Linked DNA regions of Homo sapiens. The protein of the gene in region 2 interacts with the protein of the main gene of each other region in a biochemical or structural test. Each region holds a gene or a part of one and is shown on either strand. Other genes may lie near its edges.

Evidence for each region.
Region 1: the proteins of MAEA (region 2) and RMND5A form a complex in vitro, tested with the Homo sapiens proteins (one study listed by BioGRID).
Region 3: of the proteins of MAEA (region 2) and UBE2R2, one has a biochemical effect on the other in vitro, tested with the Homo sapiens proteins (one study listed by BioGRID).

The regions. Positions count from the first base shown.
Region 1 is NC_000002.12:86,723,241-86,730,290, reverse strand, and holds part of RMND5A (E3 ubiquitin-protein transferase RMND5A), read right to left. Parts: intron 1-7,050.
Region 2 is NC_000004.12:1,292,872-1,299,921, reverse strand, and holds part of MAEA (E3 ubiquitin-protein transferase MAEA), read right to left. Parts: intron 1,949-7,050; exon of another isoform or gene 1,807-1,948; intron 1-1,806.
Region 3 is NC_000009.12:33,918,110-33,920,899, reverse strand, and holds the end of UBE2R2 (ubiquitin-conjugating enzyme E2 R2), read right to left. Parts: 3' UTR 501-2,790; downstream 1-500. UniProt on the Homo sapiens protein: E2 ubiquitin-conjugating enzyme that accepts ubiquitin from an E1 ubiquitin-activating protein, and catalyzes its covalent attachment to other proteins by an E3 ubiquitin-protein ligase complex.

The sequences.
Region 1 (7,050 bases), on a different chromosome or scaffold from region 2:
GAATGAGACCCCCCCTCCCCCACCCCCCAAAAAAACAAAAACAAAAACAAAAAAAAATCAAACTCAGATTTCCACCTTCCCCTCTCCTAAACTTCCTATTTTCTACCTGGTTCCATAATGATCTACCCATCATTCATGTTTAAAACCTTGGATTAACCTTTGGTTTTTCCTGCCCTTTTCTCCTACTCTGCCAGACTCCATCTGTGCACCAACTCCTGGTCATTCCTTCCCTCAGAAATCCCTTTCATGTGTCCCTTTAAATTTCTACCACCAGTACCCAAAGACAGGTCCCTATTTCATCAAATCTAGGTTGACACTTAGCCTTAGCTAACGTTCTTGCCTCTAGTCAAACCTCACTCCCAACTCCAAACCAACCTAAATACTGCTGACAACTGGTCTCTGATCGTGTCCCTGTCCCCTCCCTATTCAAAATGTCCCCACCCCACCCCAAAGTAATTCAATATCTTCCCAGTCTACTACTTTCCCTGGTATCCATGGCTTTACAAAACCTGATTCCAATTTAATTTTAATGCTCTTATCGCCTTTCCCCTGCAATCTGGTCCTTCACCTCTCACTCCTCTACACCTTTGTTCTTGCCATCCTCCCCTCCAGGCACTCCATCTGCTCTTTCTGCTATCCATATTCAATCTCTGCTACTAAAACTTCCCATAGGTAAAAAGAGTCTCTCCTTGTCTCAAATCCCACCCCTTTTTGTCCACACCACTCATGTAGCATCTAGCCTAGATACATAACCGTGCATTACAGGGCACTGCTTTTGTTTGTGTGTTTGTTAAAAAATGCCAGTCTCATCTCCCTAACTGGACACAAAGTTCTTAGAGGATGAAAATGCTTGTTCTTTGTAACTCCTAGAAGATTTTGCTTAGTTCTACCTATAAATGGTGATTAATAACTACTGATGAGGTGATCTAAAGTTCAGTTGAAATAATGCCCATCTACTCCCATGCAGTTCTTTCTAAGGGCTCTCTCTCTTCACTGGTGTCTGTACTCACCAGAAGCACTGTTATACACTGTGTGCCGTGGTCTTGTTTTTTCCCCCTTTCAAATATGAGTCTGGTCTCTCCAACTAACTTCTAAGTTCCTTAAAGACTCTTTCTTATACCTTTTAAGCATTCTTTACAATGTTAAGCAGACCACTGGACACAGAGTGGTATTTAACATAAACCAGTAATAAAGACACCTAAATATTACCCAAAATGTCTCAATTAAACAGTGCTTGGGCCCGGCGTGGTGGCTCACGCCTATAATCCTAGCACTTTGGGAGGCCAAGGCGGGCAGATTACGAGGTCAAGAGATCGAGACCATCCTGGCCAACATGGTAAAATCTCGTCTCTACTAAAATACAAAAAAAAAATAGTCAGGCCTGGTGGCATGCGCCTGTAATCGCAGCTACTCGGGGGCTGAGGCAGGGGAATCGCTTGAACTTGGGAGGCAGAGGTTGCAGTGAGCCAAGATCATGCCACTGCACTCCAGCCTGGGTGACAGAGCGAGACTCAGCCTCAAAAAAAAAAAAGCTTAACACCACTTAAGGCACAGACTTTATAAATAACACGTCTACCCTGTTTTACAAATTTCAAAGCCAGTTCACGTCTATTATTTATTTCACTCTCATAACTCTGTGATGTCAGTTTACTGAAGGAAAAACTGGCTAAGCAAGATTGTAGGATCAGGCCGGGCGTGGTGGCTCATGCCTGTAATCCCAGCACTTTGGGAGGCTGAGACGGGTGGATTACTTGAGCCCAGGAGTTCAAGATCCGCCTAGCCAACATAGTGAAACTCCGTCACTACTAAAAATACAAAAATTAGCCATGCATTGTGCACACCTGTAATCCCAGCTACTTGGGAGCACAAGAATCGCTTGAACCCTGGAGGCAGAGGTTGCAGTGAGCTGAGATCACACACCACTGCACTCCAGCCTAGGTGACAGAGTGAGACTCTGTCTCCAAAAAAAAAAAAAAAGATTGTAGAACCAGTAAATTGGCAGTGCAAGGATTCAAACCCAGACCTCCTGGGCCCAGGGTCAAAATTTTAGGTACTATTCCACAAATACAGATTCATCTTCTCAATTAGCCTCCAAGTTCCTGGAGGACCAGGGCCATGAATAATGTTTCTTTTAAAAGATTCTCTCCTCATCTCCTCCCAAATGTCTTCATGTATCAATAAGATGAATTAAACCTATATGAATTCTGCAGATACAACAAACTCATCATAAATAACACACAGCCTGACACTACATTGTGCCCCCATAACAGACGAAATCACCATCCAGGCCTCCATCTTAAGTGGAGAAAGACTTGGTAATATAAGCCTATGGCCTCTCCAAGCGACATTCCCAAACAACCATTTTGAGCTCAGCCACACAATCACCACACCCATATAAGGTGAAAGCATACTGTATTTCTCAAAATCCTCGAGTCCTGCCAGACAGTCTAGTCTTTGTTCTCTGAAGGGTTGAGTTAACATCTAATCTAAAGAGAATGGCCAGAAGTGTCTGCTACTCTCAGAGCTTTCAAGGAAACGTCCAGTTAGAGAGCATCATCTCCTGGAAGTACCACGGGTCTCCAAGTACACATAGCTCAGAGCCAGGGCCCTCCACAATTTTCTCCCTAAACTGCATTTTTGGATCATTTTTAAAGATTTTGGAAGCCTTACAGATGAAGAAGCAGGGCCCTAAATAAAAATAAGTTAGTTTTAATATTCCAAGTGAACAGTTTGCTAAAACACCATTTTCATCATCCTAAAGACTAAGAGACTAAGACATGAAAACAACAGAAACTTCTCTATTAGCTCTAGTATGACAGTATCACAGAAGTGTTGGCAAGTTTCTCCTTACCAATGTTATTATCCAGAGTTAGAAACTACTTTAGAAATAAAATAACTTTAGGAAAATTACTTTACTATGTCAAGCATTAAAGTAATTTCAAAAAAGTTCTAGAGGAACATGAACCAAGTTGTATTCTCTAGTCTATAGATTAAGTCATACTAACAACTCACTACTTGAATTATATGAGCATTATAGTTAGGAGGCCAGGCAAAAGCTGAGAAGGCGAGGCTAGTCAGGAAAACATCTCAGAGAATGTTACTGATATAACATGTAGCTGTTGCACTGTAATAGACATATATTACTCTGTCTGGGTTTAAGTGTTCCTTTCTAGAACTGTCTCTTTACCTGATGAACAGTGTATTATAAGGCCATATACCTCCTGAGGGGGTGAGCACAGCTCAAGGTGGCCAGAAGACCTCACTCCCTGGTCCCAGTTACTGATTCAGGGAAAGGATCCATAACGGAATAATAAAGGTACTCCCTGGAGTATCTCCAACAAAATGGCCATGTTCCTGTCTTTTGAGCTCCATTGGTCATCTCTACCCCATGTGAAGAAAACTACCCTGAAAATAAAGCCAACAGTTGACAGAAGAGAACAAGATCAGTCCTGATGACATGCCTGGTGCCCCTGGAGCCAGCCTAGCCCTAACCTCAGCCTATTTATACATCAACAAATTCCATTTTAATGAACACTATTATGTCACCTGCCAGTCTAAATGAATACGGTGCCAAATAAAAAAGAATTAATTATCTCCAGAGTACGTCTGGAAAAAGAATGGCTAACAAAGTTAAATCTACTTCTAAACCCAACTGGAAACACCAATATACTGACTTTTTATTCTTACCACCTAAAATGGCCTAAATAACTTGAGAACCAGTCTGTTCTTCTCTTAGAATGTTTGAACAATGTCCTCCCAAACTTTTATTTATGACCTACTGATATACTATTTTCCAGACTAGATGTTAAAAACAGATATCAAATTGTATTCAAAACAAAGTCACTATTCTCTCAAGAGTGTCTTGTTAGTATTTAGCAAAAGTCTGGGTAACAAATGGGCAACCTGGCTATGAGGCCTACTCCATGCACACCAAAGAATAAGGCTAAAAAGGTAAACAAGCTACAAGTCTACCAAGCCCCGATATAATACATTTACTTTCATTCAAAACAATATATTCAACACTGGTCGGCTCTGAAAAAGCACAGATCATTCATATATACAAATAAGCATACTTTTCAACACATGTGTTTAATATACACAACCCAAATTCTAGATTGGAAGATTATACCTAACATGCGACCCTCAACCTCTGGTTTTTGTGTACTGATGCAATATCATACCACAGCAATGAGTTAAAAATGTGACCTCCACAAGTTTCTTTTTTTGTTTTTCATGTTTTACTTGCCTACTTACCTTCTCATTTGTTACCTTCACATTTTTAAAAAGAAAGCAGTTCTCCAACTGGTAACCAAAGTTTCAACAGTTTCTTTGATTCACCAAAGAGATAAGGGTAGGAGTTATGGTTTACATGAGTTTTACTACTAGAAGTCACAACATACACACACACCAAAGGAGTTTTAGGTGCTAATACAGTATATGTTGATCACTCCCACAGATGAAGACATCTTTACCAACTTGCAAAGTGAGATAACACTAAGCCTTAATCATAGTAAATGGAAATACATATCTGATGCGTTAAAGAAAAAAGGAAAAGTGACAAATCGTCATTTCACTGGATTCTTTTAAAATTTTTTCTGGAGGTCGGGCGCAGTGGCTCACGCCTGTAATCCCTGCAGTTTGGAAGGCCGAGGCGCGTGGACTGCTTGAGGTCAGGTGTTCAAGACCAGCCTGACCCACATGTTGAAACCCCGTCTCTACTAAAAATACAAAAATTAGCCAGGCATGGTGGCAGGTGGTGCCTGTAATCCCAGCTACTCAGGAGGCTGAGGCAGGAGAATTGCCTGAAGCCAGGAGGCGGAGGTTGCAGTGAGCTAAGATCGCACCACTGCACTCCAGCCTGGGTGACAGAGGGAGGCTGTCTCAAAAAACAACAAAAAAATTTTTTTTCTGGAGACTGGCATTTATGTCTGTGAAGTGGGCAACCAGGTGGTCCAGGAACAAGAGTAGAAAGATTTTTCAATGGGTGTCCTTTTTTATCATTTGAGTTTATACCATTTGAATGTACTATTCACTGGGTTATCTTTTTCATTGTTTGAATGGATACCATTTGAATGTATGACTTACTAAAAATTAATAAATAAATTTTAAATTTAGAAAATTCCTTGAAAGTCACTTTCAGAAACCACATTAGAACTCCGTTAGTCTAAAAATAATCAGAAAAGAATACTGCATGTCCTTTACTCTTACAAAAACTGCAATTTTCCCAAGTATACTTTTAAATGTGTCCTGAAACCATTACCAACTGTTTCTGCCTAATTTTCTTTCACAAAGTATGAGTGCAGAATACCAGCAAAACATGATAAATAGTTCTTTTCTGTTTTTCCCTTCCACCACAGAGGTGCTAATGGGAAACAATATAAATTTGCCAATAGGAAAAAAATGCTAAAAGGCATATACTCACAAATCAAATCACTAAAAGTTAACCATACAGTAGTTAACCCTGTTAAGCCAGGGTTATCCAAAGCACCGCTCCCATACCACTGATGCGAATGGTAATTTTAGCTAGTATGTAAACTAATATTTTAATTGTTATGAATTTATTTTAACATGTAGTTTATTATACCTAATACCTACATACCACATGTAGGACTACACAAATATCACTGCCTAAGATAAATCTACTTAAGTAAAATCGTGAATCCATCTGAAAAATAAGAGTGCACATGTGTATGAGTGAAGTTTTAGAAGCACCAGTGCACTATACAAATTAGATCGAGGCACACTGGGAATGACCACCAGCCTACATTAACCACAATGAACTTAGACCAAACTTCGTGCTCACAGGGAAACTCTCACTGAAAGGCTGGCACAACTAAATGACAGAAGCTGTGATCTCTATTCCTCTTACCTTGGACACCTCACTGCAGGCTCTGGATCACTCCCCACCCTCCTATCTACCACCCTAAGGTTTCTAATTCCAAAGGCATGAAGAGAAGTCTAGAGTCAGTCTCCAGGGAGAGGAATGTCTTGGCCTCGGCAGAGCTCTTCAGTATTCTCCCTGGTTCTTATTGCCTCTTCATGTTTCTATTACACCTATGTTGTCCCTGAACCACCAATATTCCCTAACTGTCTATGGCACCAAGTCGAAGCCTGCACTTCCCTCTCAGAGCCTTATATTCCATTATTGTTCTCTGCTGCAGGCCTGATACCAGTCCAACCCCATTTAAAAGAAAAAAAAAAAAAGATATTCCTGTTGTCAGGCTGACGGATTTGGCCAGAGGTGGATTAAATGGCAGAGCACAAACCAATTCACCAGGTATGAGAGACCAGCCCATACTATCCTCATTTCCCCAAGTGTATCTGCATTAAGAAACTTGCATTTTAAAAAAGATTAACGAGAGAAATTTTATGTAAAAGAATTTCAAGCTACTTAAAGGTGATTTAGACCACCTGAGAAATTTTAGGGCTCACTGCAGGACTATCTCCCAGCCAGCAATCAGGCAGTATTTACAATCTGGAATAAGGGTGCTGAGACTAGAAAAGGGTTGTCAATGGGCTTACTAACTAAACTCTTATTTATGTATGATCAGTTTCCATCACAAACTATCCTAACAGCTCATTTAGTATATAGCTGTCTGCTCACAACTTCAGAGATGAAAAAAAAATTTTAACATAAAACATTCATCCTCAGAAACTGAACCAATCCCTTTAGGTTGGCTAAAGGATGCTTCTGCAACAGTCATTCACCAGTATGATGCAATGATGTGTTCTATATAGTCCTCAAAAATTCTGTTTTATTCATACCAGATTCTTGCAAGTATTACCACAAGTAATCTCAGAGAATGAGGTCCAAAGTCCTGACAGAGGGGTCCCAATTAGAGCCTCTCAGGTTATCAGAATCATTTGCCCAGACAGGTATATTCAGAAGCCCAAAAATCTTCCCTTTAAACTTGAAAATAGAGTTCCAAACTCAGTTTTCAGTAAAATACCTTTGAGAAGGGCATATTTAAGTTTCAATGTAATATCTACCACATCACCTGCCGAGAACTTTAATTTAGAAATCATCTGTTTTCAAAAATACCATAGCCC
Region 2 (7,050 bases):
TATAATCCCAGTGGTCAGAAACAAGCAAAATACCGTTATGTGAGACAGCGGTCACGACTCACGAGGGAAAAGGGCAGAAGTGGGAGATGCTGGGGCTGCAGTTTCAACAGTGGAGTCAGAGAAGCTTCACAAGCTGACAGCTCAGCGAAGATTGAAGGAGGTGAGGACATGGGACCACGGACGTTGGCAAAGATTGAAGGTGAGGACATGGGACCATGGACATCTGTGGAAGGAGCGCTCCAGACAGAGGAAGGTGGCAGTAAAACCCTGGGCTCGGCATGCTGGCCTGGCTGAATGGCGGCAGAAAGGCCACTGGGCCCAGCACCCTACAGGGCAAAGGGCCTGGGAGCCACTGTAACGACCCTGGCCTTCATCCCCAGGTCAGGAAACTCCTAGAACAAAAAGACGACAGGATCTGGCGCTGGGGCAGCCGGGGTGGGCATGAGCAGAGCAGGAGCAGCCAGAAGGCTATTCAATATTCCAGAGAGAGATGCGACTTGAGCCGCAGGGGCAGAGGTGGGAAGAGCAGCAGCAGCTGGGCCTGGGCATGTCCTGACGCCAGGGTGGAGGGGCAGACGGGCTGGGCATGAGCTGTGACAACAGAGGCATCAAGGCCAACCTGAAGGTTCTGGCCTGACCAAGGGAGATGGAGGGGCTGCCCTTCCCGAAGAGAAGGGAGACTGGTAGAATTGGTTTGGGCAGCAGGTGTTAAGATGATAAGCTCAGATCTAAATATGCCAAGGAGCTGGGCATGGTGGCTCACACCTGTTATTCCAACACTTTTGGACGCCCAGGAGGGAGGAATGCTTGAGCCCAAGAGATGGAGACCAGCCTAGACAACGGAGCTAGAACCTATCTCTACAAATAAAAAAATTAGCCAGACACGGAAGCAGGCGCCCGTGGTCCCAGTTACCCGGGAGGCTGAGGCAGGAAGATCACCTGAGCCCAGGAGGTCAAGGCTGAAGTGAGCTGTGATCATGCCACTGCACTCCCGCCTGGGTGCCAGAGTGAGATCCCATCTCTAAAAATAATAATAATTTTAATAATAATAATTTTAATGCCAAAGTGCCTTGCCAAGTGGGTATGTTTTACAGGCTACTGGATACAGGGCTCTGGGGTTGGGAAGATACCTGCCTGGGAGTCATCAGTATACACAGAGGGTCCTATCAGTCCACTAGACCCTGTGAGAGCACCAAGGCAGCGGTGCTCACAGCAACACCCAGGGCCAAGGACTGAGCCCGGGGGGAAACGCGAGGATGGCGCTCTAGGAGCCCGAGGGGGTGAGCTGTGTTCCAGCCCTGTGAGAGGTCGAGATGGGCAGCAAGAATCCATCATGGGTCTCAGCAGTGTCTTGGGGTTACCTGGTGCCCTGACTATAGCACTGTGATGGGGGTAAAACCAGATGAGAAGCAATTCCAGAGACCCCAAGGCAGGGCTGGCTCAGACAGAGGGGACCTGTGGGTCCCGCACACAGTTAACCAGAAGACGGCGCGTGTGCCTCTTCGTGGATAACCAGAAGACGGCGCGTGTGCCTCTTCGTGGATAACCAGAAGACGGCGCGTGTGCCTCTTCGTGGATAACCAGAAGACGGCACATGCCTCTTCAGGTCACAGGGATGGGGCAGGGGGTCTGGTGCATGAACAAAGGCTGGCCTTGGGCGGGGCACAAATGACATATCTCCAGTAAAAGAAAGGAAACAGTGAGCACAAGCAGGCAGGCGACAGACAGGGCCAAGCCGCGGGCAGAGCACAAGGACGGGGCAGGCATGGGGGGCTCATGGAGAAGGAGGGGCATATGGAACAGTACCTGGGGTACAGGGTGCTAAAATGCCTCAAGAAGCATGGCTATGCTGCCAGGCAGTACTCGACACCCACTCCAGGCAGCAACCGGGTTCCTCAGCAGATAGGTGCGGCTTCTGTGGCCAGTGCAGGGGCCTTGCACAGCGGGGTTTCCATGCTGGAATGTTCTAGAACAATGGGAAGCAGAGAAGGGCAGGGGATGGGGCTACATCGCGAGGGGTGGAGGCAAGGGAGAAAGGAAACGCAAGAGGCTGACCACAGCCAGATGAGAGCACAGGCCATGAGACCAAGACATACTCTAGAATGCGGCAAGTGGACAAAAGTGAGATGCGAAGTTTAGGAATTTCCCAGACAGACGGGGGAGAAATTGGTTCGGCCAACAGCCATTGACTGACTCCTGTGCCAGGCACTCGTGGGTGTGACGTGAACGACGACAAAGGACGGCCCGTGCCCTCGCAGAGCAGACGCTCTAAAGGAGACGCCCAACCAAAGCACAGAGAGATGCAGGCGACCGCGTCAGACTGTGACGAGTGCTGCAAAGGAAACCAGGCAGGCAAGGGACAAAGGGCAAAAGGAACCACATCCTAATTTTATTTAGGGCAGCAATGAGCCCACACTCAAGCGCGTGCTCTCTCTCTATATGTATGTATACACACACACATACGCACGTACTTTTTCAGGCTCCTCCAAAGCTAGAAATGGCCAGCCCCGTGCTCTGGGGAATGAGCTGAAGTGTAAACGCTTGGGAGGATGTCCACTAAGGCCCCCACGCAGGGAGCTGGCCACGCAGGGCGGCACTGATTCCCCCTTACCCTCCTCCTGGCCGCGAAGGCCGCAGCCCCAGCAGCCATCGTGGACTCAAGGATAAACGTGAGAAACAGAAATCGAGAAAACCTCCGAGTTCTCGGCTGTCACTGAACAAGTGCCGGGGGACATCGCTGTCAACTGACTTGGGAAGGGTGGCTTAGTAAGGCAGGTCTGGGGCTCGTCTGGGGCCCCAAGGCCGAGATGCGGCATTTGGTTTTGCGCCTGGTATCGTATCTTTGAACTGCCTTCCAGACATGCGAAGAGAGCTCCGGGAGGTGACTACACGGGATGGCCTCAGGGAGAGAGGCCTGGGGAGGGCAGCAGTGTGGGGACAGGAGCTTGGAGACCGTCTGTGAAGCCACACAACCTCTGGAGGGCTGGCTGGTGACATAAAACAAAAGGCCTCCAAGACTAGAGAAGACAGCATAGGCAAGTGAGGACATGCAGCGAGGGGTGGGGAGAGCCCAGAGGATGGTGTCACGGGAGCCGAGTGATGGGAGCGTCTCGAGGCAGTGGGGTCCGCTGTGGACTGACCGCTTTCAGGAGCATCATCCTGTCCTCAAGAGGAACATCTGGGTGGAGTGTTGGGGGGCAAAAATCTGATTTAGGTAAAACAGGAAGAGAGACATGAAGGGGCAGAGACAGGGAGTAGTAGCTGGAGGAGGACGGGGGCAAGGAAGGGGTTTTCACGAGAGGAAGACTCAGAGCCACGTGCACACCAGGGAGCTGCACAGCCAATGGGAAAACCGACCAACAGAGAGAGAACCAAGTGCAGGAGCAGCCACAAGGCAAAGGGCACAGCACAGGTGAGGGGGGCACAGCGCAAGTGAGGGAGGCACAGGCACGGGTGAGGGGGGCACAGGCACGGGTGAGGAACGGCACAGGCATGGGTGAGGGGTACAGGTGAGGAATGGCATGGGTGACGGCTGCACAGGCACAGGTGAGGGGGGCACAGGTGCGGGTGGGGGGGCACAGGTGAGGGTAGCATAGGTGAGGTGCAGATGTAGGTGGGGGGCGCACGTGAAGGTGGTGCAGGAGCAGGTGAGGGAGGAGCAGGTGAGGGAGGAGCAGGTGAGGGGGGCACAGGCACAGGTGGGGGGCACAGGTGAGGGCAGCACAGGTGAGGGCAGTGCAGACGTGGGTGAGGGGGGCACAGGTGCGGGTGGGGGGGCACAGGTGAGGGTAGCATAGGTGAGGTGCAGATGTAGGTGGGGGGCGCACGTGAAGGTGGTGCAGGAGCAGGTGAGGGAGGAGCAGGTGAGGGAGGAGCAGGTGAGGGGGGCACAGGCACAGGTGGGGGGCACAGGTGAGGGCAGCACAGGTGAGGGCAGTGCAGACGTGGGTGAGGGGGGCACAGGTGCGGGCGAGGGTGGCACAGGTGTGGGTGAGGGGGTGCAGGTGAAGGCAGCACAGGTGAGGGCGGTGCAGACACAGGTGAAGGGGCAAAGGCGCAGGTGTGGTGGGCACCGGCATGGGTGAGGAGGGCACAGGCGTGGGTGAGGGGGCACAGGCGCTGGGGAGGGGGGCACAGGCGCGGGTGAGGGGGGCAGAGGCACGGGTGAGGGGGCACAGGCGCGGGTGAGGGGGTACAGGAGCGGGTGAGGGGGGTACAGGTGTGGGTGAGGGGGTATAGGAGCGGGTGAGGGGGTACAGGAGCGGGTGAGGGGGGTACAGGTACGGGTGATGGGGCTCATCCACCACGGGTGTGGGAGCAGGTGCAGGTCAGGCAGGGTCTGCGTGACAGGCATGGGCGAGCATGAAGTAGGAGGGAAAGTCTGAGAGAAGGACAGGTATGAAAGGCTCGCCTGGGAGGAGAGGAAGGAGGCTGCTCTGGGCCCCTCCCTCGAGTGGGGCAGCACTCAGGGTCCCGGTCCGGGTCCACAGTCAGCCATCAGCACAGCAGGTGCTTTCTTCTGCTCAGCCACATTCAGCTCAACAGTCACTAAATGTGGTATTAACACAGTGAATAATTCTTTTTGTTCAGGTTTTCAAAATAATGGCCCCTAGCTATAACGATTCTGAAATAACAGACCTAAAAATCATCAGCAGTTACCCCGGCAGGAAGTGTGCTTTGCGATGCCTGGGTCAGCACCCAGACATCCCCACTCGGCCTGAAGCCCCCAGAGGGTGGGGCTCGCAGCACAGCCTCTCTGCAGACGGGGCAGTCACATGCTACAGGCACCGGCCGGCCTTGTCTTCATTCTGGTGCCAATGTGTCTCCTTGGGCTTGCTTCCCATTCTGCTGACCCCTGTACCCACAGACCGAGTCACTGCCCAGCACCCAGTCTCACTGTGAGACCCTCCCTGCACAGCTCTGGGACACCCCCAGCCACATCACCCCAATGGTGCTGTGTGCCTGTGTGCCTACTGGGGTGAGAGCCGGCCAGGACTTCAACACGGTCCACAGAGCCTCACCCCAAAACTTAGCTCCGCCAACCAGCTCACAATATCGCATTCACTGGAGGAAGCTCATCCCCACCCCCGCCCCTGCCCCTGCCCCTGCCCCCGGCCCCACCCCCGTCCCCTGCCACTGTCCAACATCACCTCAACCTCATCAGCGTCTTTAAAGGATCTGAGATGTCTGTGTGTGCTTGTGCTGATGCCTCCCTCCCACCGGAGCGTAGACAGGGGCCTCACTTGTCTCCCCATCATGCTAGCCCAGGGCCTGACTGTGCAGGGCCTGACCGTACCTGGCCGATGGAGGCTCTCAGACCACTGCTGCGGAGGGGGGTATGGGAGAAGCTAAGTGCACCTGCAGCCCTGCTCTGCAGCCCGGCGGCGGTGCCTTGCTTAGGTCCCAGGGCCGCTCCAGGCCTCACGTCAGTACTGCCTCCAACCTAGCCCAGCCATTACGGTGAATCAGGCATTAAAAAGCACTTTCTTGACTTGAAATGTGTTAAAAAAATAATACTTAAAAAAACAAAAACAAAACCAACCCCCCAGCTAGCAGTGAATTCAAGTCTACATCCTTATCTCAGCCTTGCCCAACCAGCTGGAAAGGCCCAGGCCTGGGAGGGAAGACCTGTGCCAGCGCGGAGGCCGCGGAAGCCAGCCCAGGGCCAAACCACCAGCAAACGGTGGGAGAGGCGAGGGGAGTGGAGCTGGGAGCCACAAAGGGCAGACCATGGCTCTTCTGGGCAGAAGGAATTTCCACTGTGCTCTAGAGACCGGGCGGATTCTGGAGGGCTGTGACGTTACTGCAGATAAAGTACATCGAAAAAGCCGGCCACAGAAGAGGTGGAGACCCGGCCTAAGACTCCTCAGACACGGCATCACCAGGGTCCAACCCAATGTGTGTGTCAGTAAGTCAAACGCTTCGTGGTTGCCTGTGTTTCTCACACTCGAGAACACATGATCCTCCCAAATCCAGCCAAGATGGAGTGAAGAAAACTACAAAAGGCGCAGGAGCAGTTACAACTTCAGCACACAGCTGGCACCCGAACTCCCTACCACAGGCACAGACCCAGGCTGTGAGGCATCAGGGCCATGCCTGGGCAACCAGACTGTCATCAAACCAAAGGCAGAACATGCAAATCTTCCTGTAGAGAATTCAGACACCTGAGAATGCAACCACAAGCCCGGTGTTTCTCAGCCTGTCCTCTGGGGAGAGGACAGCATCACCACCTTGGGTGTGAGAGGACTCACTGGAGCTGGGAACCCTTGCTGGGGCTCCAGGAGAGGAGAGGTGGGCCCAGGTGGGGTTCACAGAGAGGAGCCAGGTCCAGACCAGGGTCTCCAGGTGATGAACACCACTTCCCGCCCTGGGCTGTGCAGACACCCATGTGAAATTCTCTAAACTATTATTTTTCTTCGGCTATCTGAAGGGAAATAGTAGGAGTAAATACACCAAAATGTTAATGAAGTTCTCTCTGTGCAGCAGGGTAACTTGAAGAAAAAACAAATTACTTTTATTTATTTATTATTTGAGACAGGGTCTCACTCTGTCACCCAGGCTGGAGGGCAGTGGTGCAATCTCGGTTCACCACAGCCTGGATCTCCTGGCTCAAGTGATCCTCTCGCCTCAGCCTCCCAATTAGCTGGGACTACAGGCGCACACCACCGCACCCAACTCATCAAATTACTTTTATAATCAGAAAAAAAAAAACCTTTTACAAAATAATGAAAGCAAGGGCTTCCAATTCAAGATGGTGAACTATGCATGTTGAATTGAAAGATGGTGAATTCCTGAGGTCAGGAGTTCAAGACCAGCTGGACAACATGGAGAAACCACGTCTCTACTAAAAAATACAAAAAATTAGCTGGGCATGGTGGCGGGTGCCTGTAATCTCAGCTACTCGGGAGGCTGAGGTAGGAGAATTGCTTGAATCTGGGAGGCAGAGGTTGCAGTGAGCTGAGATTGTGCCACCGCGCTCCAGCCTGGGCAACAGAGTGAGACTCCGTCTCAAAAAAGAAAAAAAAAAAAAAAAAAGATGGTGAGTTATTC
Region 3 (2,790 bases), on a different chromosome or scaffold from region 2:
ACAATCTACTTTTTCTGCTTTTGGCCTCTACAATTGAGAGCGATGGTCCTGTCATCAGATGGGACCGATACTCCTATTAACCCACAGCTTGGGACCTTACCTAGAAAAAAGGTAAGTGTCTACAGGTAAAATTAGGACTTTTATTAAATAGGGTGATCTGCCTGATCCCTGCTATTAGCAGCAGTAAGTTAGGAAAACAAATGACAGTGAAAATGTTTGCCTAAGGAAAGCAGCAGAGCACCCCTCAATCCTTCACTGACCTACTTGTATCAGCTCCCGTTTTCAGAATCAAGTTTAACAAATGGCTACGTCTATAAGGAGCTTGAAGGGACTGGGGATACACCAGGGAGGTGAGTTAGTTAGAAAGGCAGATTCCCCAGTTTTGGTTTTTGTCTAATTTTTCAGCTGAGCCCCAGCGTAATCTGCAAACTTAACAGTGATAATGAGACCACCTTTTAGTTTTCTTTAACACAAGGTAAAAAAAGAAGAGGGTCATTTCATGGGGAAGTAGCAATACAGGTATTTTATTTCACATTTTATTAGTAGACAGATGGGCAGAAAAAGACAAAATAAACCACTAAAGGGGAAGTCAACACAAAATCCGTCAGATAATCTTTTCTCATAAGTTAAACTGAAGCAAAACATCTACAATTTCAGCTAAAACTATTAAAGTCAGGTGTGTCCTGCTGGTTTCAGAATAGTTGAAAATTGCATCTGAATCCTTTTAGTTGTAAATGTAAACCTTGTTTGTTTTATCAGGATGGGAGGGGTGGAGAGTTCCTTTCCAGTGGAGAGCTGCACATTTCCCCTTCCAATCAGTTTCTTACAACATGTGCCCCAAACGTAAGGAAACCAGCAAGTAAAGAAGCAATTTGCCAGGGTAAGGGAAAGAAGGTTCTACAAAAAAGTTTGACTAATAGAAAATAACTCTGGAATGATTGATAAAAGGAGAAGGGGGGAAGACTGAAAGAATCAACAGCAGAATCATATACTTCTCCACCCAGCCTCAAAATACACAGAACTGAAGAGCATCTAGTGAGGCCTCAATTAGAACTAAAAGGAATCTAAAAATGCAGGATTTTGAGTTCATGTCACATCAAATAATAAGCAAAACTGTACGTACATGGTTCCGGATTGAGCCTGAGACCTCCACTCCCAGAAGGGGGAAAAAAAATTACAAACTCAAGTATTTTCCACAGGGATGTGTTCTCAGGGACAGAGCTCTGGAACCAGCCTCTGGGTTTCGTTCAGTCAGTCTAAAATACCAGAATGTCCACCTGCTAGCAAGAGACTTACCCAGTCTTCTGGAACTGATTGTACTCATCAGAGGCAAACCCAGCCCTTGACACTTTTAACACCCCAAAGGGCTGAAAGGTACAACCTCCACTTGGCGCTCCGGCTCCCTGAGTCAATGTCTAACAGAGGCCAATAGGGCCTGATGGAACAGCTGTGCAGCAGAGCACCTCCCGCAATGCCAGGGTGCTGGGGCTGCCCTGGGAGTGAGATGCTTTAGCAAAGGGGAATGAAAGGCTTAATTTTAGGGCTCCAAGAGAATAAGACCAAGCTACTGGCTGTAAACTTGCATGGGGGTTTGGGGGCATTTTGGGGGAGGTAAATCAGCACTGTGAGAGGCTTTGGCTCCACAAGATTTGCAGGTTAATCTGGAAGCATTACTTACAAAGTATGGGGAGTAAAAAGGTAGTTCCAACATCTATGAGAGTTTGTAATCAGGTAACTTGACAATGTATTACGAAGCTGCTCTGTTCCATGGATCTGACTAAAATCACTAGATTCTGGGTGCAAGTAGCAACCCTGGCCCTGTGGAGATCACAGATTCTGGGACCAGGCTCAACAGTGTCCCCTAAGAGCCTTGCTTGTTAAACAGTCCCATTTCATACCAGACCAAACTTTAGAGGCTGGGAAGGGCTGCTGGGACCAAACTTTAGAGGCCGGGAAGGGCTGCTGGGAAGAAGTCATGTGTTTGGGAGTTTGAAGAGTGAAAACCCTGAGATCAGAATGGAAGGAGGAGCTAAGGAAGTAAGCGTCACCTACTCTGGCCATCCTAGGATCCCTCCTGCCCCGTCCCTAATCTGCCCTTTGGTTCTTTCTGAGTTACGAGCCAAAGGAGGAGTTGACACTAGTGCCCAGGGGTCTGAAATAGGACTACAGTCAGTCCTTGCTGCATTTTCCTTCTGAAATCTGATTTTACATTATAGCGGTTTCCTCCAAATAATGCCCTCCTATGATCTGGTGCACCCCCATAACAACCAAAAATTACCTTCAAGTTCTGAAGTCTCCTGGATGGTGAAGGCTGCTGGATCTCAATATTGATTGAAGCAACACGATTGAGATCTGGAAAATCAAAGCTGCAGCAAGTGCATTGCAGGAAGATCTAGCCTTATCTGGCCTAAAAACTGCCTGCAGTCAACTCCCTCAGCCCTGCCACAATTTCTATGCATAATTCTGCTTGCACTCCACAGCCTAAGTATGTTGAAAGGAGAAAAAAAGTTCAGATCACATCCAATGAAGAAGGCGGTAACTCGTCTCACACACATCCAAGTTTTTCACTATCAGTATAAGCAGCTCGATGAAAACCGAAATCTTAACACATGCACCTAGGATTAATACTGAGTAATTAAAAGTGGCTACTTAAAAAACAAAAACAAAACGTCATGGTACGAGTGTATTTTTGATGGGAAGGCCATGCTAAATCTATAAAACAGATGTTTCCTCTCCCAACAGTGGTCACCAGTAGTTTCAACTTTTTCCCCCCAGTAGCATCAACCAAAC